Regions from separate parts of the Homo sapiens genome. Here all the other regions are linked to region 5. Evidence: fine-mapped expression QTL. A gene starts in region 5. Each other region holds a variant in brackets. All regions are shown on one strand. Distances are from middle to middle. Region 1 has its middle 90 kb from the start of WDR1. Region 2 has its middle 23 kb from the start of SLC2A9. Region 3 holds the start of SLC2A9-AS1 (SLC2A9 antisense RNA 1). Region 4 holds the start of LOC124900665 (a long non-coding RNA gene). Region 5 holds the start of SLC2A9 (solute carrier family 2 member 9). Region 6 overlaps WDR1 (WD repeat domain 1).

Region 1 (5,075 bases), 190 kb before region 5:
AGTCCAAGTAATAAAGAGAACAGAAGACTTAAGATGCAGAGAGAATTGAAAGTGTTATGATTCTCTTTAGATCATTCTATGACCAGAAAACCTATCACTATTGCACCTAATATTCAAGCTTTATTGGAAAAATAAAGTTGCCAACATTCGTTTTGATCATGAGACATTTGTCCAGTGATTTTAGTGATTCAGCCTTACCCACTGACAGGTTGGCCAAGGAAGGTCCCCTTCCCCATCCTGTCTCCCTTCACAAGTCTGAAGCATCTAATCCTGGCAAGTGGACCTCACATCCCAGTCCCCATCACTCCAGATCAGCCAGGACCCAGGTAGGACCCCTTGCTGCCCCCATCCCACCCTCTTGCCCCTGTGCTCTCTTTGGGACTTTGCAGGACCCTTAATGAACCCGCAGCCAAGAACACATCTCTGCTGGCAGAAATCCAATGACCAGCTGCCCCAAACACCACAGGACCTCTTTTTCCCATCCAGCCCAGCCTACCTAGGATCTGTAATCAAGGGTTAAATATGAAATAGGCAGAAAAGTTCTGTATCTTCCCTTAGAGGGAAATTCACAAACCTACCATTAAAAATCCTTAACTTTCACCTCTAAGTTGGTTTTTCTGCTAGGATTAGGGTTGCTTTAACTCAAGTATCAAGCAACAGATCAGGTAAACTAAGGAGATACCAAGTCCGAGAAACAGCATTAGAACGGCAAGTGACATTAACACCATCCACATTTCTACAATGTCACACAGATTAGGGTAATATAACACAAGGACATTAGGGAGTTAAGGAAACCATTCTGTGGTATGGATCAATTCATATCTTGCAGGGGTTAAGTCAACTATTTACCTCCTCATGGCAAACAGTTGCTCTTTAGAGAGCCTCACTCACCTGTCTGCTCTGTAAAGGGCAAGGACTGTTGTTAAGAACATGCTGCCTGCATCCTGAACCTCCCAAGCATCATACAATCCTACAGGTAGACTTGTGAACTTGATCTCCATTCCTGTCTGCCACAGTCTGAGTAGGGACAGGTGTGAATGGAGCTTCAGTGATTTCTGTGGCAATCAACATTAGGATAAGGGACAGAAATTTAAGGAAGAGTTGAAGACTGGAGTCTGCAACAGCTTCTGGGCATGAATGTAGGTGACTTGGTACCTTGAAGATCTTGTTGCATACCAGGGTATAATCAACACACCTGCAGATCATATTGGGGCAATACAAGTATCAGGTAACATCAAAGATCATAGAAGTTAGAAAAACATCCAGTGAGTTTTCCCCCTGAAATTATCTTTTTCAAGCCCTATGATAAGACTTGCATACATTGAGTGGAGGTGGCTTACTGAACCTAAGCTCTGGAGTGTTCATTCCTAGGCTCTGCCTTTTCCCTCCATCACTGGCTTGAGCATTCTAAGTCATTCTAGCTATGAAGAATGTGTGAAGACTGGCAGAAGGACCTACTTCTGGCAAGACATTTCTCCCAACTGGAGGTGGTGGATGGATATGTGGCATGTTCATGAGGCACCAGACCCAACAAGAAGTCCTGCTGCTGTCATTGCCATCTCTCCCTGTGGTTGCTCCTGGCATCTCACAGGCCTGGGCACTGGTTAAGGGAAGCTAGTGGGTCACTCCTCGACTGTTCATCTAGACAGCATCCTGGGCTAGGACACCACTTCTAGAGAAACTTGGATTTCTATGTGAATGTTTTTATACCAGTAAAAATACCCTGCCCCCAAAGTGTTGGGACAGCTGCTCCAAGGGCTCAAAACAGTCCTAGAATGGTCCCTCTGAAACACTTGTTACTTGGACTTGGGGTCAGAAGAATGCCAAACACAGAAAGCCTCACTGATCACTGGTTCAAACTGAGTAAATCAGTGGGGCAGGGATCTTCTTTCATGTGCCTATTCTG[G/T]AGTTTTAAGTATGGAAGGGATGTCATTCTATATTTGACTGCATTTTTGAAATTGGTCTTTAATCTTCTGGAGTCCCATGTCAGATGGGAGTGTACTATGAAGTATGTATTATGGCTTTCATGCAACTTATGGTATATCTTGGTGAATAACTACCTCTTCTGGCATTTAGTGCCATTCTGGAAAAATACATTCTCTCATTCATCCTCATTGAGGGTCCACTATCAGTTTTCTTTTTAATGGGAAAAAGTATACATTCAGTCTCACTCTCAAGGTAACTCTCCTGATCTTTGCCCCAATATCATTTGCAGAGGTCTCAATTATGCTGACATTCCCCAGAAGAGCCTGCTGGGTCACTTACTGGTATCACTTAAGTCAGACCTGGGCAACAGGAAAGTAGGAAGTACCCTGGAGAACACCTGTGCGCCAGAGACAGGGAGAAACTTATAAGCCCAGGGGCTCAGTGACATCACTGATGTTTTTAGTTATCTAAGGAATGCAGGGACGTTACTTCCAACTTTGAAATTATGGGAGAATTTCTTGCATCTTTTTCTCCTACCATGAAGTGTACTTTCAAAATAGGTAGGATTTTTTGGATTTCAGAGAAAGCATACGTCACACTCGACTACTCCAAACCATTTTTCTGGGCTCAAATGGCTAAAAGTTCTGAGGAGGACTCCAAGAAAATGAGGGCTCCACAGCTAGTTTTGGTCTAAGCTGTTACCATGGATGTAATCCCATAAGAGACAAGGCAGGAGAGGATGTCACGGGTGCTCTCTAGCAGACTCCATAGCAAAAGGTATATTGCACACCCCTAATATACTAGCCTAAGTCTGCACCTTTTTCAGATAAGCCTTCTACTAGCTATCTCTAAGCATGTTACTGGGCCTTAGAAAGTGAGCTCCTGGCCATGAAACATCAGGTAACTGTTTATAACTGCTCAGTATGAGCTAGGTGCTGTGAAGTCCCATCCAGGCAAACGTTCTAGTAGGCACAGAAACAGTGTTATAAAGTATTTGTACAGAAAGGCCAGATTTAAGTTAGAAAACCAGGCGGCTCAGATTCCCGTCATCCCCCACCTCACACTGGGCCCCTTGCCATCTGCGACAGTGTAGGATACTCAATCCCACAGCTACTGGCAGCTTTCTACACACAGGATTCTAATCACCAACCGTGCAACACCATTCTCTTTCCCATGCAGGCATTCCTACGTTAGCAAAGACGTCCGGGACAAAGACAGTTCTGGCCTTAGTGTTTCTACTGTATGCCGTAAGAAAAACGTCTGGATTCTGCACAATACAGGGCATTTGAGAATACCCGCAGAAGCACTGACCAGCACTAGGAGTTAGAAAAGCTGTTCTTGATCAAGCTTCCCCTTCTGACTATGAAGAAGCCAAGAGGCAAGGAGTGAACTCCAGAAGTCAAGGGGAAAAACATGGAAATCCCAGATTTAAACAATTGTCAGTAGAAACTGAACAGGGACAGCAGGCTTCTAACTCCCAAGCACAACTGCATTACCAGGAACATCAGTGAAGGGGACTAAGAACTGTCCCACGTGATGATGATGTTCTCTGCCAAGGGAATAGAGCAGAAGGCAGTGACAGCCCAAAACCTAGCATACCAATTCCCCCATTACCTTTAAGACTGCCACCAGTTAACCTGCTTCACCAGGACATACTGCAGGGCCCAGGTCCAACACCTGGAGCTGACCAGAGGCCAGAAATTAGACGTGCAAGTGCCTGCTTGCCTTTACCCTAGCCAAATCAAGATGTATTCCCAGCACAGCTGAGAACAGAATCCAGAAGTCATTACAAAGAGTCAGGTGGACAAGGGGTAAATGTCTAGGTTGAAGAGATGGATCCTCCTGAAGTGGCTCTTCTGAGTTGTCCGCCCTGGAAGAGTTCAGTGCTCTCTCCTTGAGGGAGTTCATACAACTGTGGTGGCAATGTCTGGTCTAACATGGCAATAGAAATTCCTGAAGATCAGCTCAGGCAGAGCTGAATGGCTAGAGAAAATGGAGCACTTAAGTCACCCACTAGAAAAACTATGCACAAGTGCATATCCCCCTTCCCTAACAGAAAGGTCCTCTCATCAGGCTTTTCAATATGGCAGGAAACAAGGATTTTTGGCATTACGACTAGGGTAATAATTGGTTTCCACTCCAAAGGGTAGTCCAGATGCCTCCCCCTAAGGATGTACTTCATCTTACTCATGGGTAGGCCAGAAGCCTTCAAGTTGACCCCATACACCTGCCAACAATGACACAGTCATGGCAATAAGTACCCAGAACCTTTTTGCAAGTGTGACTGTCCAAATGACCAATGATGGACTGTGAGTCATACATTTTATAAGATGAAAGGTCAACTGTCAGGTCCGTGTGAGCACACAGCCATCTCATATTTGCCAGTACAGTCAGCTATTATGTTCCAAGTGCCACTGACTATTCTGTATGTACCTCCACATAACTCTCCTGGTGTATGTAATGTATGTCTGCTTGAATTCAGATGGAATGAGATGTACACCTCCAACTGTGAGGTGATCTCAGCTGCAAGTTTGACATTGCCATGCATTTGGGATTATTTACATTTACATCTGTCATTTCCTAAAACCTTAAGTTGGATTCCTCAAGCTAAAGGTTGCCTTTAAGCCTCTGAAGAACTGGGAAACTTGAGACTTGAAAGCATTCTTGAGTGAAAGAGTAAAGAACTAGAATGAGAGGTAATGTAGTTTACTATCCAAGGTTACGGTTGTCTCGGAAGAAGTTGAGGCAGATGTTGACATGGAACAGAGCCACCTAGAAGAGGCCTCACAAGAGAGGACACAAAGCAGGACACAGTCATCCTGCCTGCCCCAATGCGTGCCCCAAGCAAACACCCACAGGCTCCCATACTCCCACTGTCAGTGAGCTGCCAACACTTGGAACGCAGCCACCTGGCGATGGGGTGTCACTTCCAAGTGTACTGCTACCATATTATAGGCTCTAGGACAAGCTCGGTCACTGAGCAGCAGTCACACATGAGCCTTGGTCCCTGAAGAACTGCCCATGGTGTGAGATTACAGTGCCAGTTATTTTTTATGAAGAGATTTGTACAACTTGTGTGAAGGGACAAGTCATGAAGGATTCTAAAAAAACCACAGAATCCAAAAGTATTCTCTGCAAGTGTTGCAGAA
Region 2 (5,075 bases), 23 kb before region 5:
AGGGGAAGGGCAGCCTGCTTTAACTCAGTCGGCTACTTCAAATGCTAATTTCATCCAAAAAGACCTTCACAGAAATGCTGAGAGTAGTGTTTGACCAAATGTCTGGGCACCTTGTAGTCCAAGCATATTGATGCATACAGAACCATCACATTAAACCATCACAGAATCCATCTTCCTGGCTGGCCTGTCCACAAGGCAGAAGAGAAAGTGGAGAGTTGGAGCCATCTCGGCTTGGAATGCTGACGTAAAACTGTGAAGAAGGAAGGGAGGCAGAAGACTTTAGAGTAAGGGTGGATATTAAGGTAAAATCTGGGATCTGGCTTAAAAGAGGAGAACAGAGAGGGCTGGTGAACTTGGGAGAAGCTAAAGTGTCAGTGGCTCATCACAGTCACAGATGGAGCAAACAGAAGCAGTATTGGATGAGGTCACTAGGGTTGCTGTAATAAAGTCTCACAAACCAGGTGGCTTCAAATAGCGGAAATGTATTCTCCCACAGTGCTGGAGGCCAGAAGTCCAAAATCAAGGTGTTAGCAGGGTCATGCAGCCTCTGGGTGGAATCCTTCCTTCCCTCTAGCAGCTTCTGGTGGTGCCCATGGGCCCTTGGCATCCTGTGGCTGGCAGCTGCATCACTCCAAGCTCTTCCTCTGTCATCATATGGACGACACAAGGAGAGCTCCCTGTGTGTCACAGTCTCCTTTTTATAAGGATACCAGTCATACTGGATTAGGGCCCACCCCAAGTGACTTCATCTTAACTTGATTACCTCTGTAAATAGTCTATTTCCAAATAAGGGCACATACATAGGTCCCGGAGGTTAGGACTTTAACATATCTTTTCAAGGAGACACAGTTCAACCCATAACAGGCATAAACTCTAAACGTCATGGCTTACCATGTGATATGATTTGGCTCTGTGTCCCCACCTACATCTCATCTTGAATTGTAATCCCCACACATAGTGGGAGGGGCCTGGTGAGAGGTGATTGGATCATGGGGGCAGTTCTCCTATGCTGTTCTTGTGATGGTGAGTGAGTTCTCATGAGATCTGATGGTTCGAAAGTGTGTGGCACTTCTGCCCTCTCTCCTGCCACCACGTAAGATGTGCCTTGCTTCCCCTTTGCCTTCCTCTATGAAAGTAAATTTCGGCCAGGTGCGGTGGCTCACACCTGTAATCCCAGCACTTTGGGCGGCTGAGGCGGTTGGATCACCTGAGGTCAAGAGTTTGAAACCAGCCTGGCTAACATGGTGAAACCCCGTCTCTACTAAAAATACAAAAATTAGCTGGTCGTGGTGGTGCTCACCTGTAGTCCTATCTACTCAGGAGGCTGAGGGAGGAGAATCACTTGAACCCAGGAGGCGCAGGTTGCAGTGAGCTGAGATTGCACCACTGCACCCCAGCCTGGGTGACAGAGCGAGACTCAGCCTCAAAAAAAAAAAAGAAAGAAAGAAAAAAAAAAAGTAAATTTCCTGAGGCCTCCTCAGCCATGCTGAACTGTGAATCAGTTAAACTTCTTTTCTTTATAAATTACCCAATCTCAGGCAGTTCTTTACAGTAGTGTGAAAACAGAGTAATATACCATATTGCTGTGAAAATTAAATGAGGTGATGAATGATAAGATATTTTTGAAAGGAAAAAAGCACAGCAAATTATTGTTTCCTGTACTAGTTAGGTCACTAGTAACAGTCTCTTGCTTGTCTTGGAATGGATAGTCATTCAGATGGAGATGATTAGTCAGGCTCAAGGTAGAGACACTTTGAACTGGAAGATTCTGACCTATCGGCATTTCTCCATTTGAAATAGTTCCAAAGACAAATGATTACAGAAACCACAAACTCAAGGGTCTTCTGAGCCATAAATGAAATACCATTCTTGGAGTCAGCAACATGGAATGTGTTAATTATTACTGAGATGTGGAAATATGTCACAGCATTGACAGTGAGCTTTATTCATTCAAACCTCCTCACTTGGACTTTGTGATATTCCAACCCAGAGATTTAGTCTTTTTATATGACTATCTCATAAAAAGGTGTGTTTACTTTTTTTGCTCTTTTTTATGGTAAAAATACAGAAAATTAAAATTAACCTTCTGGCCGGGTGCCGTGGCTCACGCCTGTAATCCCAGCACTTTGGGAGGCCAAGGCGGGCAGATCACCTGAGGTCAGGAGTTCAAGACAAGCCTGGTCAACATGGTGAAACCCCATCTCTACTAAAAACACAAAAAATTAGACAGGCATGGCAGCGCATACCTGTAGTCCCAGCTACTCGGGAGGCTGGAGGGGAGAGAATCGCTAGAACCCAGGAGGC[G/A]GAGCCTGCAGTGAGCCGTGATCACGCCACTGAACTCCAGCCTGGGCAACAGAGCGAGACTCCGTCTCAAAAAAAAATAAATAAATAAAATAAATAAATAAATAAATAAATACAAAATAAATAAAATAAAAAATAAAATAAACTTTCTTAACCACTTTTATGTGTACAGTTCAGTAGTGTTGAGTATATTCACATTATTGTGCAACAGATCTTTATAATGTTTTCATCTTGCAACCATGAAACTATATCCACTAGACGCTACTTCCCCTTCTCTCTTCCCTCTGGCTGTTGTTAACCACCCTTCTGCTTTCTGTTTCCATAATTTTGACTATGTTAGATACTATAGAGTTAAAATAGATCCCTACAGTATCTGTTCTTCTGCAGATGGCTTTTTGTGTTTAGCATAATGTCTTTGAAATTGTTGCATGTTGTAGCATGTGACAGGATTTTCTTCTTTTTAAGGCTGCATAGTAGTCTATGTTATGTATATACTATATTTTCTTTATCCATTCATCTGTTGATGGGAATCTAGGTTGCTTCCACCTGTTGGCTATTGTGAATAATGCTGTACTGAAAACATGTATGTACAAATATCTTTCTGATACTCTGCTTTGAATTCATCTAGATATAAACCCAGAAGTGGGATTGCTGGATCATATGGTAACTCAATTTTCAATTTTATGAGGAACTTCTGTATTTTGTTTTCTGTCTTGTATTTCCACTAACAGTGCACAAGGGCTCCAACTTCTTCACATCCTTGCTGACACTTATTATTTTCCATTCTTTTGATAGTGGCCATCCTGATGGATGAGGTGACAATACATTATGGTCTTGATTTGCATTTCCCTAATGATTAGTGATATTGAGCATCTTTTTATGTGCTTATTGGCCACTCATATCTTCTTTGGAGAAATGTCTATTTAAGTCCTTTCCCCATTTAAAAATTGTCTTATTTGTTTGTTGTTGTTGTTGTTGAGTAGTAGAAATTTCTTATATATTCTGCATAGCAATCCCTTATCAGATACATAATTTGCAATTATTTCCTCCCATAGGTTGCCTTTCCACTATGTTGATTGTTTCTTTTGATGCACAAACGTTTTTGAGTTTGGTGTAGTCTTATTTGCCAATTTTTGTTTCTGTTTCCTGTGCTTTGGGTGTCATATATAAATCATTGCCAAATCCAATGTCCTGAAGCTTTTCTCCTATGTTTTCTTCTAGGGGTGTAATAGTTTTAGGCCTTACATTTGGGTCTTTGATTCATTTTCAGTTGATTTTCATATCTGCTGCAAGGGAAAAGTCCAACTTCATTCTTTTGCAGGTGGATATCCAGGTTTTCTGACACCATTTTTTAAACAGACTATCCTTTTTTCACTCTGTGGTCTTGGAACTCTTGTAGATTATTTGGCCATAAATGCAGGGGTTCGTCTCTTGGCTGTCTGCTCCTGCCATTGATCTATATATTCATCTTTATGCCAGTACCACTACTGTTGCTTTGTATTATGTCTTGAAATCAGGGAGTGTGAGTCCTCCAGCTTTGTTCTTTTTAAAGATCATTTTGGCTATTTGGGGTCCTTGTAATTCCATATGTATTTTAGTATTTTTTTCCAATTTCTGCAACAAATGCAGTTGGGATTTTGACAGGGATTGCATTGAATGTGTAGACTGCTTTGGGTAATATGGACGTTTTAACAATATTAATCCTTCCAATTAAAGCACATTGGATGTTTTTCCATTTATTTGTATCCTCTTTGATTTCTTTCACCAATGTTTGGTAGTTTTCCATGTACAAGTCTTTTACCTTGGTGGTTAAGTTTATTCCCAAGTATTTTATACTTTTTGATACTATAGTAAATGAACTTGTTTTCTTAAAAATTTCCTTTTTCAATTGATCATGGATAGTGTATAGGAACACAATTGATTTTTGAGTGTTGATTTTGTATCCTGAAATTTTGCTAAATTTGTTTATTCATTCTAGCAGTTTTTTGGTAGGATCTTTAGGGTTTTCCACATATAAGACTGTGTCATTTCCAAATAGAAATAATTTTAAGTCTTCTTTTCTGGTTTGTATGTCTTTAATAATTTCTTTTTCTTTTCTGATTGTTCTGGCTAGAACTTCCAGTATTATGTCAAATAATAATGGTGAGAGTGGGCATCCTTGCTTGGTTCCTGATCTTAGAGGAAAAGCTTTCAGTGTTTCTCCATTGGGTATGATGTCTGTTGTGGGTTTTCCATGTATGACTTTTACTATGTTGTGGTAGTTTCTTTCTATTCTTAGTTTGTTCAGTGTTTTTTTTATCATGAAAGGGGGCTGAATGTTGTCAAATATTTTTTTCTGCATCCATTGAGATGATCAGGCAGTTTTAGTCCTCCATTTTGTTACATTGATTGATTTTCATATGTTGAACCATCCTTGCATTCTAGGCATAAATCCCACCTGGTCATGATATATGATCCCTTTAACATGCTGTTGAATTTGGTTTGGTAGTATTTTGTTTAGGATTTTTGCATCAATATTAATCAGGGGTTTATCTATAGTGTTTTTTTCTTGCTGTGTCTTTGTCTGGTTTTGGTATCAAGGTAATTCTGTCCTCATAGAATAAGTTTGAGAGTGTTCTCTCCTCTTCAGTTCTTTGGAAGAGTTTCAGAAGAACTGATGTTAGTTCTTTAAATGTTTGGTAGAATTCTGTAGTGAATCCTTCTAGTCCTGGGCTTTTCTTTGTTGAGAGCTGTTTGATTACAGCTTCAATCTCCTCACTAGTTATAGATCTGCT
Region 3 (5,075 bases), 36 kb after region 5:
AAAGCTTTTGGAGGCATCCTTGGCTCCTCTATGCCTCTCCACCTCTGTCCAGTCCATCAGCAAATCCCACCAACTCACTCTTCAAAATATGCTAGGATCTGACCACTTCTCACTAAGTGCACTGCTCCCAGCCTGGTCCAAATCATTACCAGTGGTTGACTCACCTGTTGTGGTAGCTCCCCAGCTGGTCTCCCTGCTTTCACACTTGTCCCCTGCAGTCCAGGAGCAACAGAGAAGACAAGATGTAGTGATCTTGTTCAAGTATTAGCCGGTGTCATTCCTCTCCTTGGAATCTCCCAGTGGCTGCTATCTCCCCCAGGGGGGAAACGCTAGTTCTTATGGTGGCATAGAAGACTCTCTGAGTTCTTCTTTTCTCTTCTCAACTTTCACTTTCTACTGCTTGCTCCCTGGCTCCCTACTGCCTCCAGCCAGGCTGGCCTCACTGATGTTTCTTTCTTTCTTTTTCTTTTCTTTTTTTTTCAAGACGGAGTCTCGCTCTGTCACCCAGGTTGGAGTGCGGTGGCATGATCTTGGCTCACTGCAATCTCTGCCTCCTGGGTTCAAGCAGTTCTCCTGCCCCAGTCTCCCGAGAGGCTGGTTTAGAGAAAAAAACTTATATTTTTATATAATGAGTATAATAGCATCTGCCATAACTGAGTCCCATAATTTATGACAAGAGGCAATGTTAGCTGGTGGGAAGAGCGCAAGTTCTAAGATCAGAGACCCACTGGGGCTCTATTGGGCAAAATAATTTTTTAACCACAATTTACAAAACAATTTAATATCTGTTAACTCATTGAGTCTATAGGAAAAAAAATAAGCCGTAAAGGGCTAAGATGTTTCCCCAACTCCTTGACTCACTGACTATATGACCTAAAACAAGTTTCTAGGCCGGACGCAGTGGCTCACGCCTGTAATCCCAGCACTTTGGGAGGCTGAGGCAGGCAGATCACCTGAGGTCAGAAGTTTGAGACCATCCTGGCCAACATGGTGAAACCCCGTCTCTACTAAAAATACAAAAATTAGCTGGGTGTGGTGGTGCATGCCTGTAATCCCAGCTACCCAGGAAGCTGAGGGAGGAGAATCACTTGAACCTGGGAAGTGGAAACTGCAGTGAGCAGAGATTGTGCCAATCCACTCCAGCCTGGGTGATAGAGCAAGACTCTGTCTCAAAAATAAAAATTAAAAATAAAACAAGTTTCTAGCTTGCCAGCAACCTAGTTAACTTGTTTATAAAATAGAGATTATAAGAGTACCTATCTCTTTGGGTCATTCTGAGGATTAAATGAGCTACTAATGCAAAGTACTTAAAGCAGGGTCTATCCTATAGCAAGAGTTCAATAAATGTGGGCTTTTAGGATCATTTTGCAAAAGTGAGGAAAAGAAAACACAGAGAAATGAAGTTCAAAGTCTCCTAGCTCCTGAAGGATAGAGCTGGTGCAGGAATCCAGGTCCCCAGGCCTCCAAACAAGTCAGGTATTTGAACCATGAGGTCTTAGGCATGTGTTTATAAAAGTGATGGCAGTCCTGACACAGAGCTGTTAATAATAATTATTGCCATGGAAATTTCCCTAATCTTGTTTGAGAGGATTAGTCCAGCCATTCACTTAGTACTGTAGTTCATCAAATCTAAGATGCCATTGGGTCTGAGGAGTATTGTTATTTTATGAGCCACTGGAAAGGAAAGGAAATAAGGAAGAAAGGGAGGGAGGGAGGGAAGGAGCCAACAAAAGTTGTAGAACGCTATGCTGGTTGTCAAGCTGTTGTCTCCTAGCTCCACACTTACCCTTCTGGGCTCTCTCTCTCTGATGCTGGGGCTGGGGCCTGCACCCCCATTTGTCCTTTGCCAATAGGGGCACTAGAGGAGAGAGAAAAGACTAGCTTTTTCATGTTTGTCTGAGTTTCCTGCCAGTCCCAGTGATGACATTGGCAGTTGATTCCAGCTTCCAACTTTTGTCCATTTCCAGAACCAGAATCATATTGCTCCTCAGAGGAAACAGTCCAGTGGACAGTGCCCACTCTCAAAGGTCTTCGGGGCCCTCCTCCATGCCCCTGAGGTGTCAGCACCACATGGGAAACACCCCTTCTTCAGAGGTCTTCCTTTTTGACATCTCGGTTCTTCAATATCCACTTAACCAATTCCCTATGTTAAATTCTCTCCATTAAAATACCTAGAGTGGTTTCCATTTTCCTGCCTGGACCCTGACTCACGAATTGTAAGATGACCACTGACTTCAGAAATGTTAAATGATAGTCTTAGAATTAAAGCAATAAAATACTACCACAGAGAATTCATAGATGTCAAGGCTGATGGTGCCTTTGTAAGTGACCTAGTAGACCCCAGGGCTGAACCCAGTCACACAGCCAGAGGTGGCAAGGCCAGTGCTCCCTGCACTGTGCCTGAGTCTTGCTCTACTCACCCTTCAGAAGGGCCTGGCTCCTGCTCCTGGGATGGACAGTTCAGTGACATGCCTCATGGTTAGACATCTTCATCAAATCTTTCCTTTCTTTCCAGGAAGCACACTTTGCTGGCCAATAATGGGTTTGCAATTTCTGCTGCATTGCTGATGGCCTGCTCGCTCCAGGCAGGAGCCTTTGAAATGCTCATCGTGGGACGCTTCATCATGGGCATAGATGGAGGTGAGAGTTCACCATGACGGGGAGGGAACAGTAACATACTCCTTGGGGGTGTCCCAAAATGTGAGAAGTGTTTGGGGCTGTCACATGACTGGGGCTCTCTGCTGGCATTGACTTGGCAGGGACCAAGGATGCTGGAACTCTGCATAAAGTGGGACAGTCCTGTGGGATGAACCATCCCATTCATGATGCTCTAGCCCCTAATTGAGGAATGCTGGGCAGGGTCCGCAGTCTACCCCAAAGACCTGGATGGTCTTCAGCATGTCATGCCTTCTGTTTGGTCACCTTCATCATAATGTTAATATTCCAAGGTTATTTGTGGTTTTCATGGGGCTTTTATGAGGATGGGGTTTCTTCTCTGGGCCTCTGACTCATTCGTTATTTCATTTACT[C/T]GCCAGGCATTTGTAGAGCACCTGCGAGGGCTGGCACACTATAGGATGGAGACACAATGATTAACAAGACCCTGTCCCTGGAGCTTACATTCTAGTGGGCAGACAGATACATAAGGTAGACAGTAGCATGTCCTAGGAAGAAAACAAAGCAGGACAGGAGGGTGGTGAGGGCTGTTTTAGAAAGGCCAATCAGGGAAGACTGCTCAGAGAAGGAAACCTGAGCAGAGACCAGAGGAGCCAAGGGTGAGAACTGTTCCCAGCAGAGAGAAGAGTATTATGTCTCAGAGGCGGAAGGAGGCATGGCACGTCTGGGAAAGAGCAAGGAGATGTGTGGGTGCTGATGACGCCAAAGAGGAGCTGGGGCCAGATCACATAAGACCTTGTAGGCCACGGCGAGGACTGTGTGCCTGTGCCGAGTATGCAGGGAGGGTTGAGATGAATGTGACATGGACTGGTTTGTTCCAGTAATGGAGTATGAGGGGAAGCCAGGAGTGGAATCAGAGGAGCCAGCTGTTCAGGGGAAGGGACTGGGCTAGGTGGGGAGCTGCAGAGAAGGGGACAGATGCTGGCTATGGGAGTGAGAGTAGGAGACTCAAGATATATTGTCAGACAAACGCTGCTCTCTTTCTAAATAGGCAAATCCATAAAGTATCACTTTTAGGCATTTGTGGAAAGATTGCAAGCCTTAGGATTAGAAATCCCTGAGTTTGGATCTCAGTTCTGCTGCAAGTTACTTAATGGCTCTGAGCCTTGGTTTTCCCATTTGTAAAATGGTGGTAATAATACCTACTTCAAAAGGCTATAATAAGGCTGAACGGAAACACACACTCTGTCTCTCTCTCTCTCTCTGTCTCTCTCACACACACACATATACACATATGTACTGCCTGGAACCTAGCATGAGCTTCTTAAAGGCTAATTCCCTTCCTTGTCGATGTCTTAAAAGCTGAGGGTACCAGGTTGTTCAGCTGAGTGAGATGAACAATAAAAATGTCTCAGGGAGAGGTGAGCAGGAGAGTGGGGGCCTGGAAGTAAGGTTGAGAAGAGGAGGCTTCACTTACTTTTGTTGCCCTGCTGGAGGGGAATAATCTAGGCCTCTCTAATAGTCCAAACTCAAGATGAAATGACTCCTCAATCATTTGTCTATTCATTTGTCTATACTACTTGAATAGACTCCTTCTATTGATGGCTATTGAGAGTTTATCCATAAGAATAATGGCTGGTGTCTATGTAATGTTTTATAACTGACCAACTGTGTTCATGCTTTTCATTTTTTTTGATCTCCTCCTGTAATGAAAGACTGTTTTCTCATGTTCATTTTACAAATGGGGGCCCTAATGCTCAGAAAGCTGGAGCAGGAAAGTGGTTAAGGGTGAAGACTATGGAGTCAGACTGCCTGAATGCTCTCACTTGCTTCCATTAATTTCATTAATTTATCTGTATAGGTTAGGTTTGATGTATTTAAAAACCCCGAAACTTAAGCCATGATGGCACCACTGCATTTTAGCCTTGGCTACAGAGCGAAACCCTGTCTCTTAAAAAACAAAACAAAACTTAATGGCTTCAAATAGTAACCATTTTCCTGTGCTTTCACTTCTGTGGGTCGGCTGGGCAGTTCTGCTCTGGGCCAGCTCTGCCAATCTCTGCTGGGCCTTCTCATGTGTCTGCGGTGGCTTCAGGTTGGTCAGTGGCTGGATGACCTGGGATGGTCTCACGCCTGTGTTTGGGTGTTAGCAGGTGGCCTGGTCTCACGGGCTGTCAGTGGGCCAGCTCATTTCTTGGCTTCCCACCCTGGGCCAGGGGGGCCTGGGCTGCCTTGCATAAAGTTCTTGGGCTTCCAACAGCAGCCAAAGGAGAAAGTCCCAATGTGCACAATGTGCAAGCACTTTGCATGCACGTTTGCTGGTGTCCCTTTGGCCCAAGCAAGTCCCATGGCCACGTGCAGAATAAATGTCAGAGAGGACTAACTCCCCAAGGATGTCGATCCAGGGAGGGGGTACAAATCAGGGACCACTGCAGCAACCATTGACCTCACAGTCTTGGCCT
Region 4 (5,075 bases), 42 kb before region 5:
CTGCCTTCACAGAAGATCACATCATGCAGCCAAAAAATTAAAAGGATTGTAAGGGATAATGCTGGCTGCAGCCGTCAATGTGGCCCCATTGAGAGCAGGATGAGGACGTTTACAGATGGAGACAGACACCATTTCACTGGCAATTGAATTAGAATCATCAGCTTAGCTCGCTTCTGGTCCCATCACAGATTAATCTAAATGGCACCCCAAGGAGACATCATTTTTTAAGCAGTTTGGGATTAGAAAAGGTCACACTTCTGAGAACGCTCCAGAGAGAAACACAGTGGTACCATTGTCTTCTGAATTCTAGCTTACCCTGATTTTGTTTGTACTGCATAAAGTCAGGTCAAGCAGTATGCCTCAAATAACTTGGATTTTTGACAATTACGCCTTCTTTCATGGCTGCCTTCCTGCCCTCCCTCTTTCTATTCCTTTCTCTGTCCTACCTCCCTCCCTTTCTTCTTCTTTCAATTACAGCCTCTAGTTCATTGGATTTGGAAACAAAATGAATATTATTTGAAGATTGCAAAGTATTCATCAAAACTCAGGTTTTGCCAAATTAAATGGCCGCAAACAAACCACAGTCTTTGCCCTGGGAGGAAAGCTGCCTTGATCACTGTCTCAGCCACAAGAAACAAACACATTCTTGGGTTTAGCTGACATGTCCCATAGAGACCTCATCCGTTTCTTCACTTTATGGCACATGGATGTACTAGTTATTTAGCTTTTGCTCATGTAACTTGTAAAACCTTCTCTAAGTGGCTTAAAAAAACTTCTTGGGTCCCACTCTGTTGCCTAGGCTGGAGTGCAGTGGTGCGATCATGGCTCTCTGCAGCTTCAAACTCCTGGGCTCAAGGGATCATCACATCTCAGCCTGTCGAGTAGTTGGGACTACAGGCACGCACCACCATATCTGGCTTCTAAGTGGCTCTTGCTCTTTTCAGTTATTCCTTTCTTTTCTGGTTTTTTTTTTTTTTTTTTTGAGATGGAGTCTCGCTCTGTTGCCCAGGCTGGAGTGCAGTGACGCAATCTCAGGTCACTGCAACCTTTGCCCCCCAGGTTCAATCAATTCTTGTGCCTCAGCCTCGCCAGTAGCTCGGATTAACAGGCACATGCCGCCATGCCCAGCTAATTTTTGTATTTTTAGTAGAGACAGGTTTCACCATGTTGGCCAGGCTGGTCTCAAACTCCTAACCTTAAGTGATCCGCCCACCTCAGCCTTCCAAAGTGTTGAGATTATGGTGTGAGCCACCGCGCCTGGCTCTTTTCAGTTTTTCAGTCTTTGCTTTCAACTGGAGCACATTCTCAGCAGCAGCTTTTGCTGTAGCAAGCAGTGTCAACAGCATCCCTCCGGCAGGTGACTTCCTTGAGTTGGCTTCCTCAACCTCAGCACAACCAACTACTCACATTTCAGGTGGGACAGTTCTTTGTGTGGGGGCTGTCCTGTACATTGCAGGGTGTCAGCGGCATCCCTGGCCCCCATTAGATGCCAGTAGTACCCCCTGCCCCAGTCGTCACAACCAAAAATCTCTCCGGACATTGCTAATTCAGAAAAGAGTTCCTTTTTATTTTTAAAGAGCTAGGTTTTTGTTGCTGTTGTTACAACTCTGTGATCTTAACAGATTAATTTTCTTAGGAAGAAAAACCATGACTGAGATATTTAGCTTCTTCGTTATAATTCAAAATTCACTCAATCATTTATTCACTCATGTAATCAACTGTAGGGGCAGCAAAATTCCACTTCCATACTCTTAGGGTCCTGCTTGTGCTGGAGAATTTAACTGACATAAGACAGATGAACAGGAGGAAAGCATGCACATTTTTAAATACAAGTTTTATGTAGCACAGGTACCCTCATAAGGAAATAAAGTCCTGAAGAAGTAGTCAGATATACTGAATTGGACAAATAATAGTAAGTTGTGAAGAAGCAACTAAATGATGTGGGGAGGCTTAAAAGGTAAGAGTTATTTGCACAAGGTTGGTACAGAATTCTTTCCATCTTAGCTTCTCATCTTTGAGAATAAGACTGTTGCATCTTTCACATAGGGATCTCATCTTTTGCTTTTAACAAATGGCATGAAGGTCAGAGTGATCTTCTTGCATCTGCTATTTTTCTTTTTCTTGTTTTTTTTTTCGAGACGGAGTCTTGCTCTGTCACCCAGGCTGGAGTGCAGTAAAGCGATCTCCGCTCACTGCAAGCTCTGCCTTCCGGGTTCACGCCATTCTCCTGCCTCAGCCTCCCGAGTAGCTAGGACTATAGGCGCCCACCACCCCGCCAGGCTAATTTTTTTTTTTTTTTTTTTGTATCTTTAGTAGAGACAGGGTTTCACCATATTAGCCAGGATGGTCTCGATCTCCTGACCTCGTGATCCTCCCGCCTCGGCCTCCCAAAGTGCTGGAATTACAGGTATGAGCCACCGCGCCCGGCCACACCTGCTGTTTTTCAAGTGGCTTTAACTTAGTGTCAATATGCCCGAGTGGTGTAATTTCACTCCTTCAGAGCCAATGTTCATTGGTCATTAACTAGGCCCAGACACCTCACTTGGCTTTGGGGACACACGCAGCTTTGAGAATAAAACAGACATAGGTTGTCTTGTGTCACTGCATTTATTTTATTTTTTAAAGACAGGGTCTCACTCTGTCACCTGGGCTGAAGTGCAGTGGTGCCATCATAGCTCACTGCAGCCTCAAACTCCTGGGCTCAAGTGATCCTTCCACCTCGGCCTCCCAAAGTGCTGGGACTACAGACATGAGCCACCA[C/T]ACCTGGAAATTTCACTACATTTATAGAGCAGTGGAGAAGAAGGTAAACAAGGGATTCCAGAAGTGCCACGTTGGTAAAGAATGCTCACACAGCTGTGGGAGCCCGATGAGGGACATGAGGTCCAGCCTGGCATGGATAGGAATTATCATCCTACCTTTCTGGTTTCCATGAGGTCCTGATGTACAGAGCATAGCATACTGCCATGTCCTTGAATGCCCATTTCCCATTCCTCCTGCCAGCCTTGATTTAGAAGTCCTTCTCCTGCTTTCTGGAGGCCTGCATTGTCTCTGGTGTCTGAGGTCCCTGGTTGCAGTGCTCAGCTTAAAACAGCAGAGAGCAGCTTCAGATCATGGCTGGGCAGAGGCTGAGTCAGCCTGCAGGATAACTGGCTCCTAGCAGAGGCGCTAAGGAAGCCTGGTATGGGCCAACGGACCAGGCAGGCCCTCCTTCCAAGCCTCGGCCAACAGGAACCCGTTTCCTGGCTTTCAGCCCTCAAAGAAACTGCCTGGGTCTGTTTTGAAAGATCTCGAGTTGGCTGAAAGGGACATTTTCCCCATGACTGGCACTGGTTGTCAAGCCTGCTGGGCCCAGCAGGAGGAATGCCATCTCTTTTATCTCACCTTCTTTGTTAAGAGGATGGGCTGGCAGGGAACCGCTTTGCAATTATCTTGTTTAAGATGAGCAGAGGAGATAGTTGCTCCCTGCAGGGATAACCCAGGTCCCCAAGCCATCTCCTTTAACCAGCAAATACATGAGCATTATTCTAGCTCATGGCCAGGGTGGGAGGAGGCTTGGTTAACTGGACACGGTGGCCTGGCGCCTCACTCTCCCTATCAAATCCTATCAAAGCTTCTCTGTTCTCAGCTTCTTTCTCTTGGGCAAAAGAGGTAAATTGCAATAATTTGTTCCGAAGGGGTGCTAATGGGTGGCACTCAGTTGATTTCTCATTCTCCCCACTTCCCCAAATCACTTAGCTGGTATCTCCGTATAAACAAGCCCTTCTCTACTTGAACTGAGGACTAAAGGAAATATATTTGTCCATATAATGGGGCTTTTATCCAAGAAGCATTTCTCAAAGTGTGGTCCAAGACCACCCCTATCTGTAACGACTTATAAAAATACGGATTTCCTTCAGCTCAGCTACATTGCCACAAATGACAGGATTGTATTCTTTCTCGTGGTCAAATTTGTATTCCGAGGTGTATGTACACTTTCTTCATCCACTCATTTGTTGATGGACACAGGTTGATTCCATATCTTGGCTATTGTGAATAGTGCTGCAATACACATGGGAGTGCAGACAACTCTTTGGGAAATGGATTTCCCTGCCTTTCCTTTGGATATATACCCAGTAGTGGGATTACTGGATCATATGGTAAGTGAAATAAGCCAGGCACAGAAAGGTAAATACCACATGTTCTCACTTGTATGTGGAAGCTAAAAACGTTGAGCCTATAAAAGTAAGGAATAGGTTGGGTGCAGTGGCTCATGCCTGTAATCCCAGCACTTTGGGAGGCCAAGGCTGGCAGATCACGAGGTCAGGAAATCGAGACCATCCTGGCTAACAATGAAACCGCGTCTCTACTAAAAATACAAAAAATTAGCCAGGCGTGGTGGCACGCACCCGTAGTCCCAGCTACTTAGAATGCTGAGGCAGGAGAATCGTTTGAACCTGGGAGGCAGAGGTTGCAGTGGCTGAGATCACGTCACTGAACTCCAGCCTGGGTGACAGAATGAGACTCCATCTCAAAAAAAAAAAAAAAGAAAAAAGAAAGAAAAGTAAAGAGTAGAACTGTAGCTACTAGAAGCTGGGAAGGATGATGGGGAGAGGAGGATAGGGAGAGGTTGGTTAATTGTTACTAAATTACATCTACATGGGAGGAATAAGCTATAGCATTCTATGGCCCTGTAGTTGATAATTTGTTTTCATAATGGTTTCAAATATGAGAGAATTTTGAATGTTTCCAGCATAAAGACATAATAAATATTTGAGGTGATGAATATGCTGACTACCCTGATTTGAACATTATACCTTTGTTTACATGTATCAAAATATAATATGTGTCCCATAAATATGTACAATTATTATGTGTCAATTACAAATAATTTTCAATTTTAAAAATATGGATTTCCACTGTTTGGCAGCATCTACTAGAATTAGACATATGCCTATCCTGCACCCATCAATTCCATGGCTAAGAATATACAGGAGAATGGAGCATTTATGCCCAGCCAAAGATATGGTTAGGAACATTTGAGCGGCACTGTTCAATAGCCCCAAACTGGAATCAACCTAGACGTCCATCAACAGGAG
Region 5 (5,075 bases):
ACAACAGAAATGTATTGTCTCACAGTCTTAGAAACCAGAAGTCCAAGCTCAGAGTGTCAGCAGGTTAGTTCCTTCTGAAGCCTCCCTTCTTGGCAGAAGTGGCTGCCTTCTCCCTGCGTCCTCACGTGGTCATCCCTCTGTGTGTGTCTGTGTCCTCATTTCCTCTTCCTATAAGGACACCAGGCATACTGGAATACAGCCCCATGCATATGACTTCATTTAACCTTAATTACCTCTTCAAAAACCCTATCTCCAAATACAGTCACATTGTCAGGTACTTGGGGTGAGGACTTCAACATGTGAATCTGAGGGGACACAATCAGCCCATTGAGACGCACACCATCCCTGCCCACAGTGAGCTCCCGTGCAGAGGGGAAGGCACACGTGAGCAGCAGCACACGTGCAGAGGGGAAGGCACACATGGAGCACAGAGGCAGCGAGAGGTTGGGGAGGCTGCTGGGAGGAGGTGGCGAGAGAGTTAAGTGCTGAAGGGTGAGCACAGTTCAGGGCAGTCAGAAGTGAGGGCCTGAGCAAGGTCAGGAGAACCTGAATGAGTAGGAGCTTCATAAAGACAGGCAAGTAATGACTGAATGAAGGAACCAGTGAGTGTCAGAGCAGGCAGAACGTGCCCCAGCCCAGAACATCTGGGGATGTTTGTCTTATGACTTCATCTGTGATAGGAGTCGCTTCCTTAGCAGTTGCCTGCAGTGCAGGGCCGATGGCCCTGTGGAATGGGGAACCAGCCCTCGCTTTGGAGGCAGGCTCCTCCATGCTCCCCCTGAACTTCAGTTGCCCCGAAATGTAGGTCTGATAGTTCCTCTGAGGACTAAACGATATCATGAAGGTGAACACACTTGGGAAAGCCCTGTGCACATGTAACATGAGCTGTGCACATGTAGTAGGAGCTGAAGGTGAGGCAAGTGCTGTGGCTACCAGGAACCCTGGTTAGCTACCATCTGGATCCGGGAGGGACCCATCTCCGCTCTTTTACTTTCTGTCCAGCTGTAGCTGCACATTCATGTCCACTGCCTAATTTCTGGTTCCTTTTGAGTTTTCAAACCCAACAGAGGACTACGAAGCAATTTTTAACGGGATGAGGGGACACCTGATCCAATTTGAGCTTTAGCAAAATCTGGTGAGGTCCCCACTGTTACAGATGAGGAAACAGGGAGGGTATAGAGAGGGGAGTCACAGCAATGGGATGAGGAGGGGTAAATGAGATGATGAAAATGCAGTCCCTATCAGGACAGCATAGGGGCAGAGGGGCCCTCCATGCACAGGGATGCAGCTGTCCCTGCCCCTCCTCTGCCCATCTCCTGTACTTCAGGCCCCAACCATGCTTCACTGACAATTTCACTTCCTCCCACACACTGCAGGCATCTGTGCCTGCAGGCCTTGGCTCCTTGTCCTCTCACCCCGTATCCTTCTCTGTCCGCTCAGAAGCCGCCTCTTCCAGCGGGGTCTCCAAGATCCAGCTGAGATTGATGTGGTGCCTCCTCCACACTGTCCTGGGGAATCCTCCGCCTTTTTAGGTCATGTTATAATTAAGGATTTGCACATCAGAATGCTGCTCTAGGCCCACCACTCAATGAGGAAACCAGGCTGCATAGCTGAAATCCAGTTCAAGAAACAGCCACTTCTCCCGGGGCATGCCTGACTGATTAACACACAGAAGGACGATTGCACTGAATGACTGGCGTGCTCAATACATCCCCAACCTAACTCCTGAGGGTGGTTTTCCTCTTTGGAAGTCTTGATTCCCCACTTGCTTTGAGCAGCCACATTCCCACCACCGTGCATGTCAGGGCCGGACGTTTCCACGTGCGTTTCACATTCCAGGTTCCTGGAATGTCTGCCGTACTCCACACCTTTTATTTTATTGTGTGCTTTTTACTAAACGTACTTTGCTAACTTTTCGATCTCTCTTTTGTGGACTGAGCCCTACCTTGCCTCCTGGACGTTCTGCATTCACCAAGCCTGTCCCTGGCTCTGGCCCAGACTCTGCACTGCTCTCTGCTTCTGGGAGCAAACTGTTCTAGCCAAAATTGAAGGTGCTTCTCTGGCGTCTGAGGCAACATGGCCATGTGATGAACTGATTCCCACAACCTCCTGGTGTGCATGAGGCCCTTGCCTTCTCAGTACTGTCCTTGAGCCAGCCTGGGGCTGGAATACAGGACATGTCCCCTCAGCCAGTGCTGAATGAGCAGGACAGAGTAACGACTAAGAGGCAAATTCTTTTTCTTCCAAACCCACAGCCCTCGCCTTTGTTCTAGGCTACAGGAGAGCCCACACTCATTTACAGCACGCCACTTGGGGCTGGCTGTTTTCTATTTGAGCTTCAGAATAAGTCTGCAGGACAGTCAGAGTGGGGTCAATATTCCATTTTGCAGTGGTAGAAGTTGCAGCTCAGAGAATAAAGTGACTTGCCTGAGGACACACAGTTAAAAAGTGGAGGAGTTGGCCAGACATGGTGGCTTACGCCTCTAATTCCAGCACTTTGGGAGGCTGAGGTGGGCAGATCACCTGAGGTAAGGAGGTCAAGACCAGCCTGGCCAACATGGTGAAACACAGTCTCTACTAAAAATACAAAAATCAGCCAGGCGTGGTGGCACACGCCTATAGTTCCAGCTACTTGGGAGGCTGAGGCAGGAGAATTGCTTGAACCCAGGTGCGGAGGTTGCAGTGAGCAGAGATTGCATCAGTGCACTCCAGCCCGGGCAACAGAGCAAGATTCGGTCAAAAAAAAAAAAAAAAAGTGGAAGAGTCAGGGGCAGAGCTGTATGCAGGCTTCTGAGTCAAAGTCAGCCACCTCTCCATTCTGTTCCAAGCATTAGGGAGGTATCCTAGGTTAATGGCAGTCACCCTGCTCCAGGCTTTGTTACCAGAGAAAAATAAAAAGATGCTAAGAAAAAAAAAAAAAATTCCACCCCCTGGGTGGCAATCCTGGAGAGGACAGATTTCCCTTTTTGGACTGTTTCATTGCTGTAATAACTTAGGAGCAGAGAAAAAAATGTTGCCCCGTTGCCTGTTCAGGCATGATCAAATTGCCACACTTCCTGTCAGGAACTCCCGCCCTCCTTCCAGTGGACTCTGCCTCCTCACTCACGGAAATGCCTTGGCAGAGTCTGGGGTCCCTGGACTGAGCCATCAGCTGGGTCACTGAGACCCATGGCAAGGAAACAAAATAGGAATTCCAAGGAACTGGGCCTAGTTCCCCTCACAGATGACACCAGCCACGCCGGGCCTCCAGGGCCAGGGAGGGCACTGCTGGAGTGTGACCACCTGAGGAGTGGGGTGCCAGGTGGAAGGAGAAGAAAGGTAACTACGGACAGCTTTTCTGCATGGCTGGCGGGCTGTGGGGAAGGCAGGCCTGGGTGGCAGCCGTGTGACAGTGCTCAGCCCCAGCCTGGCAGCGTGTAGCTGGGGGATCTGGGGCTTTGAGGCAGGGAGGCCTCAGTTTGAGTTGCACTTCTCCATCTGTGTGACTTTGGCATGCTCTCTCCAAGCCCCAGCTGACTGGGCCAACAGCGTCTCTGGTAGACTGGGTGTGTACATGGAATGAGGCTATGGTGGCAGGCTGCCCTGCCCCGCACTTGCATGGTGGTGTCCCTCTTCTCACCCTCCCCAGGGCATGGCACGGGCAGCAGCACCGTCGGTCAGTGGGCACCCTCTGCCCGTGCAGTGAGTGGGGAGCGGGTGGAGGGCACAGGCGGGCCACACAGGCAGGGGGCTCCGGGGAGCACAGCTGAGGCAGGAGAAGATGGCCCCCACCTGCCCTTCACCAGCCTCTGGCAGGGGCACTTCACACCAGGTGCTCCCAATCTGATGGGGTGCAGACCAGGGAGGAGTTTGTGTCCTCTAAGGTCATCGGGGCTGGGAGCAAAGAAGGCACAGAGCACAGAAACGATGCCCAGCACAGCCCAGGGGCTCAGAAGAAGTGGTATCTGTGCCGAGACTCAGAGGATAGGTTTAAAGAGAAAGAGTGATAGAGAACAGGCGTTTCATCTGAAATGTGATTCTGTTCCATCAGGGATCCCCATTCAGCTCAAGCTCCTCTCACTGCAGAAAAATATTCTGGTACTACATTTCAATTGGCAGCACCCATCCCCAAGGCTTATAAATGTTCCCTCTTGCCCCCGCATGTGATCAGCAGCCTCTACGGAGCACCTCCTCTGCAGCAGGCTCCTCAACAACATATGTGGCCAGTGCTGCTATTAAGATCCCATTTCACAGGTGGGCAAGCTGAGCCCCAGAAAAGTCAAGTCACTTGCTCAGACTCCTACAGCTGAGGGGACTGGCCCTGGAGGTAAAGCTGATATCACTTGGCTCAAAGCCCCAAAGCTCTATCTCGTGGCTGGTGGCACTAGAGGAGACAAACGAGACTGGCAGAGCAGGTAAGTGGCCATCAAGAGACCCGCATTCCCTTCCAGACGGGATTTGACTGATATGGGTCCCTGAACCATGGATCCATATGTCTTCTTCACTGTTGCACCCCCACAGCTTTGTCAGGGCCTGGCGCCTACAACACACACACACACACACACACACACACACACACTCACAAATATGTCAAATGATGGCAAAGAAGGTGCCTTCCGGAGCACCTGGCCCCTGTCCACTTGGCCTGTATTCCCTGACCAGCTGAGGACAGCCATCCCTCCTGCCCTGGCTCATGCCAGCTTGTCAGCCTTTGCCAGGGATCCAGGTGTTTCTGCCCTATGGCCCTGTACTGGTGGTGGCTGTCCTTAGATGGGGCTGCAGGGCAGGACAACACCAAGGCAGGCGCCCTGTTCTCTGTGCCAAACCTTGCATCTCTACGTCTGCAGGTCCTTGTCCTGAGGCTTGGACCAGCCCCTGTAGTTTGACGCCTCAGACTGGAACAGTATGTGCATGTAAGCGTGTGTGCACATCTGTCTGGCTGTCGGCAGTCTCAGGCCCTTGGACAACGGCACTCAGGTGACGGGTCAGCAGGGGACAGTGCAGTGGTGACTAGAGGGGCACTGCAGCCAGGCCACCTGGACTTCAGTCCCCATCCTAGACAGCACCAGCCACGCTCCCTGCCCCTCTTTCCTCAC
Region 6 (5,075 bases), 89 kb before region 5:
TGCCTTTGCCTGGACATTTTCTCAGATAGCTGCAAGTCTTGCTCCCTGTCTTCTCTTTGGTTTTTCTTTTTTAATTTGAGGTGGAGGCTTACTGTCGCCCAAGCTGGAGTGCGGTGGCGTGATCTTGGGTCACTGCAACCTCCACCTGCCGGGTTCAGGCAAATCTCCTGCCTCAGCCTCCCGAGTAGTGGGGACTACAGGTACGTGCCAATTCACCTGGCTAATTTTTGTATTTTTTAGTAGGTAACGGGGTTTCGCCGTGTTGGCCAGGCTGATCTTGAACTCCCAACCTCAAGTGATCTGCTCGCTCGCCTTGGCCTCCCAAAGTCCTGGGATACAGGCGTGAGCCACCACACTAGGCCTTTCCCTTTGGTTTATACTTAGATGTAGTCACCTTAGTAGAGGGGTGTCCCCGGAATAGAATTTTCCATCCCCGGCCTTCTGTCTTTCTCATTGCTGACAATAAGTAGGAAGCAAGCTAACAAGCAGCAGGCTACGGCTGCCTACAAGTGTACATAGGTATCTGCCTGTCCCCCTAACTGGGCATCAGCTCCAGGCCAGCAGGGCTTTCCCCTCTCTTTCAGTCACTGCCGTGTCCTCGCCTAAGAGAGTGTCTGGCACACAGTAGGTGCTCAGTGAGTTACTCATTGATTAAAAAGCCTGGAAAACCAGGCTGTGTCGTGAAGATAATAGGCAGCCACTGAGGTCTTACTGCATGAGAACAAGGAAAGCTCAGCTCAGTGTAGATTGCCGGACCTAAATTTTGTGGAATCGCCTTTCATACCTAAGAGGCGAGCACCGTTGCCAGCTTTGCACTTGGAGCCCCCTCTGTCATTTATTTTGTTGACTTAAAAGCTGTTTTGTGAACCCAGCATAATGGCACTTCTTAAACTTGTAGAAAAAGGGTGTTTCTTACCTGTTTATTTCAACACATCTCGTTGCCTCACCTGGAGAGGCAACTCTCCTCTGTAGAGTGAAAGACTATAATGGTGGCCATGTAGAAACTAATATTCCAGAAGGAGAGAGCTCCAAGAAGGGGATTCCAGTGAACCATATGTACACTGTGTTTGAGAGACATTAGTTCCCCACGGAGAAGGGATGGATAGTCTGTGCTTCGGGGGTCTAAGGAAGGCTTCCTGCAGGTGCTGGTACCTCCTTAGGTCTGGGGTGGTTCCTTCTAAGTTTCCTTACCCTGCCTGCATCACCTCTGCCTCTTATGACCTCTGTGCAAAGACTGGGAAGGGTCACCCCCAATGGCTGTGAACGAACCTGTTTGTGATTCTAAACAGGGCACGGGACCATCCTACAATAAAAATTACCCAGCCTAAAATGCCAGTAGTGCCAGTAGTCCCTGTTTAGAAAAAGAAAAAAAAAAAGCAACTTTTGCCTCACAACAGAGGCCCTCTTGTGTGCTGCCAGGCAGCCAGCAGATTTGCTATGCAGGCAAGTTTGGGGCCTGGTTTTTAAAGTATCCAGTTCCTAGATTCCAGAACTAAAATACACATTTGGAAAAATGATGTCTATAAAATTGAGTTTCCGGGAGTGCAAGGTTTATAGCAATTTGACACTGCTGGGAACCCAGGCGCAGTATCAGTGGACTTTTCTCCTTGAACAGGGGGCAGACCAAGTGGGGGGTTGGGGAGGGTATTGGGCTCACTCTTGGTTTCCCTTGGTGTGAGCTGCCACCATTCACATGCAGAGGACTCACCTGTGTTTCCTGCGGGTTGGGGGTAATGGTGGCATGACAGAGGGCTTGAGGACTGACCTAGCTGCTTCTCCGGAATTGGACGCCTGCTGACTACCTGCGTGTATCCAGATGGCCATTGGCCTGTGGGGGTGCAGGATGGAGGCCCTGCCCACATGGAGCTCACTGTCCTGGGTGGGAGTGAAATAAACTCTAGGTGGCAGAAGGAAGTGGTGCGTTGGATTATCACCTGGGTGCAAACGAGCTGGCAGCAGCGCCTGCCAGGTGCAGAGCCAGGAACCTCTAGGCCTTCAGTCTGACCACCTGATGGCAGGGGAAGCAGAGGGTGGTGGGGGGCCTTCATCTCAGGAGAATCTGAGTGGCTGCAGGTGCCAGTCAGGACGCTGGGCTTCTGCAGATGGGACCACATCTGGGAGGACCGAAGGGCCGGGTGCTTATGGGCTGTTACTGTGGCACTGAGCGTGAGGGGAGTGGACAGGACCCAGGCTGAGAAGTGCTGGTGTGCAGTGGTGGCAGGTGGCTCACACAGCCCTACCATAGCGCAGCCCTGCTCTGAAGGCCACTGGAGCCATTCAGAGGTCTCACAGACAAGTAATCAGATCCAGCCTACGGTAAGGAGAAGTTCTGTATCTGAGATCTGAGGCAGGGAAGCCAATTAGGAAGCTGCTCAAAGATGAAGGCGGCGTCAGCGCAGGTTCCGTTGCGTGGTGCAGCCATCTCTGGCTCTCACGTTTCCCACACATGTTCACTAAGCCCCTGTCTTGGCAAGCCATACCCTAAGCCACAGAGGACCAGGATTAAAATCAGTGATTTTCAGGGAGGGGTAATTTCCCCCACCTCATTCCCCTGAGGGATATCTGGCAACGTTTGCAGACATTTTTGTGCCACTGGTATCTGAAGTCAGGG[T/A]TGTGGCCAAACATCCGACAAGGTACATGGCCGTCCTTCCACAAAGAACTGTCCAGCCCCAAATGCCAGGGGTACCAAGGTTGAAAACTCTGGTAAAGAACCTTCGAAGGCACCAGGTTAAGTGCTTCAAAAGAACAATGCCCTGGGTGCTCTGGGAATGTGAGGGAGGAGCCAGCTGTGCCACAGAGCGGGGACAGCTGCTGGAGAAGTGCCACATTTGAGTTGGGTCTTGAAGGATGAATAAGAGTTCTCCAGGAGGAGCGTTGAGACACACGGCAGAGGTGGGGAGAAACCAGGCAGGAAACAGCATGTGTACCTGGGTCCTCTCAGCCCCACTGTGGCCTCCTGTGTGTTGCTTTTGGTACATTTCTTGCCCTGTTGGAGGTAACGGGAGGGATACTGAAGCCATCTTTGAGGTAAGAGAAGAGGTTTAGCCTCATGCGTAAGACTACTGGAGAGATGGCCTTGCCCAAGAGTAGTTGGAGATGCTTCTTTGGAGAGTGACCTCCACCTTCTGCAAGGCCCTTGTTAGGGACAGCTGTGGACACAGGAAAGGGCCCTGTGTGCGTCTCTTCGCCGTCTCAGTGATGGGCAGGCACTCCCTGCCCTGGCGATGTGCCTGCTCCTTAGACCTGTGGGTCCTTAGCTTTGGTCACCTTGCTTGTCACTTCTACGTATGGGTCCTGCCTGCTCTCCAGGGAAAGGCCAGCATCCCACCCCTACCCCCGCCCCACTGTCCAATCCAGTGTATACCCCTGAGCACCTCTCTGTTCTTTGTTGAGTGTATTTTGTGCTGGTCTGTGGCTGAAACTTGGTGTGCTTGCCTCTTCTGTTTCCATGCCTGCGAGAGTGGGAGGAATGTTATCATGGGATCAGTGTAAGATTTAACGGAGCTAATTCGTAAAGCATCTTCAGAAGGTTGTCTGGGCCCTGGCAGGGACCTCTGCTCTTGTCTTCATGACTGCCCTGTTGGGTGGATACCCTCATCTCTCTTTTGAGAGGTGAGGATGCTGAACCTCTGGAAGGTGCTGGAATTTGAACCCTGGGAGCCACCCCCAGGTCTACCTTTGCAACTCATCAGTTAAGGCCCTGGTGGGCCCTGGGTGGGGAGTAGGAGAGGGGAAGACTGAAAACGGAGGTGGTGGTGTCCCGCTCACACGTAGTCCAATGAGGGGTGCTGCTGTGCAGGGCCACACGGTGAGTACCCCCAGGCCTGTTTCAAGGCATCTGAGGCTGAGCTGGGAGGCAGGAGGGGAAAGTCGTTCAGGGCATGGCGGCCTGTGAGTGACCACCCCGTCCTCAGCCAGCTCAAGGAGCTGCCTGTACACTGTTTGGAAGCACACAGCTGGTTGGCCAGTGCAGACTTTATTCTCTGTATTAAAGAATCACACTAACATTGAGACCAACCGTAAGGAAGACAACAAAACCACAGGGAGGAGTAAAGGCCGCCACATATGGTCCCTGATTTGCAGTGACGTGACCTGGGATTGTGTGAAGGTGTTGAGCATTTGTTACCTCCCTTGACTCACCGTGCTGTTAGTTATATGCTCATAACCCAGGTGAGTCAGCAACTGGCCCTGAGTTCAGGTCTGGCGCTGCCACTTAACAGCTGGGTGGCCTGGGGCGTATCGCCCAGTGTCTGCCTTGGTTTCTTTGTCATGTGGGATTATGAGGTTACCTTCCTTACAGCAGGTGTTGTGAGGTTTCAAAGAGAATCCACTGAGGGGCCCACCCAGGGCCTGTCTGAGAGTGAATAGTAAGTGGCCGGTGGGGATTTGTTTCTTGATAAACAGCTACCAGGCTCCAGCCAAGTTCTGGTCTTTGTCGGTATTTGGCAGCTGCTATGGTGAATCAAGTGTGAACCTTCCCCACTCTGGTGTCCACGTAGTACAGAAGGCAGGTGGGGCACAAATGATGTGTAGTCCAAGGTGGAAAGTAGTGAGGGCAGTGGGGTGGGAGTCAGGGAAGGTGGGGGTTCAGGGTGGGAGAGATGATTTCTAGCTTGGAGCATCAGGGAAGGCTGCTTGGAGGAGAAGCCCTTTGCCTGGGCCTTAAAAGATAATTAGGAGAAGGCGTTGTGTTGTCGCAGAAGTTTACATTCCTGCTTTGGAGCTGAGGTTTTTTGCTGTCATTCAGCCTTGGCCTTAGTTGTAGTCACCAGTGAACATAAGGGCCCTGGCCAGTTATATTTGCACAGGTCAGTTACAGCAGTAACAGCTTTCAGCCTCTGTTGCTTGCAGGAACTTGGAGTATTTACAAAGCCAGTGCCCTGACTGGAAGCTCACGCTCACTTGGCCTGGGTGGACCATGGAGGACGCCTGAGACTTTCTCTGGGGTTCCCGGGGACAGTTGGCAGCTAAAGGAGGGCACAGCAGGCCCCTTCATCAGTGTTGTGTCGTCATCTGCTGAAATGTTTTTTGCTTGGGCAGGTATCTCCAACCTTCTAGCATGTTCCATCAGGTTC

The links.
Region 1: its variant is fine-mapped to the expression of SLC2A9 in whole blood (TOPMed, PIP 0.95).
Region 2: its variant is fine-mapped to the expression of SLC2A9 in blood mononuclear cells (TOPMed, PIP above 0.99).
Region 3: its variant is fine-mapped to the expression of SLC2A9 in whole blood (TOPMed, PIP above 0.99).
Region 4: its variant is fine-mapped to the expression of SLC2A9 in whole blood (TOPMed, PIP above 0.99). The same link has a PIP of 0.9 or more in monocytes and monocytes after Pam3CSK4.
Region 6: its variant is fine-mapped to the expression of SLC2A9 in whole blood (INTERVAL, PIP 0.99).

What each region holds. Positions count from the first base shown.
Region 1 is chr4:10,204,614-10,209,688 of GRCh38, reverse strand. No RefSeq gene overlaps it. Among named protein-coding and RNA genes, the nearest start is that of WDR1, 90 kb to the right of the region's middle. The variant G/T (reference allele first, on the strand shown) is at 1,907.
Region 2 is chr4:10,042,413-10,047,487 of GRCh38, reverse strand. No RefSeq gene overlaps it. Among named protein-coding and RNA genes, the nearest start is that of SLC2A9, 23 kb to the right of the region's middle. The variant G/A (reference allele first, on the strand shown) is at 2,305.
Region 3 is chr4:9,983,234-9,988,308 of GRCh38, reverse strand. It overlaps SLC2A9 (solute carrier family 2 member 9), which reads left to right. Exons shown (of 12, transcript NM_020041.3): 4 at 2,516-2,640. It overlaps SLC2A9-AS1 (SLC2A9 antisense RNA 1), which reads right to left and starts at 186. Exons shown (of 4, transcript NR_183862.1): 1 at 165-186. The variant C/T (reference allele first, on the strand shown) is at 3,030.
Region 4 is chr4:10,061,935-10,067,009 of GRCh38, reverse strand. LOC124900665 (a long non-coding RNA gene) reads right to left here and starts at 2,996. Exons shown (of 2, transcript XR_007058029.1): 1 at 2,916-2,996. RefSeq lists an enhancer at 3,053-3,667. The variant C/T (reference allele first, on the strand shown) is at 2,761.
Region 5 is chr4:10,019,523-10,024,597 of GRCh38, reverse strand. It overlaps SLC2A9 (solute carrier family 2 member 9), which reads left to right and starts at 3,101. Exons shown (of 12, transcript NM_020041.3): 1 at 3,101-3,318. The coding sequence starts at 3,169. RefSeq lists an enhancer at 3,120-3,619.
Region 6 is chr4:10,108,361-10,113,435 of GRCh38, reverse strand. All of the region lies in intron 2 of WDR1 (WD repeat domain 1), which reads left to right. Among named protein-coding and RNA genes, the nearest start is that of WDR1, 5.9 kb to the left of the region's middle. RefSeq lists an enhancer at 1-113 and a silencer at 1,557-1,851. The variant T/A (reference allele first, on the strand shown) is at 2,612.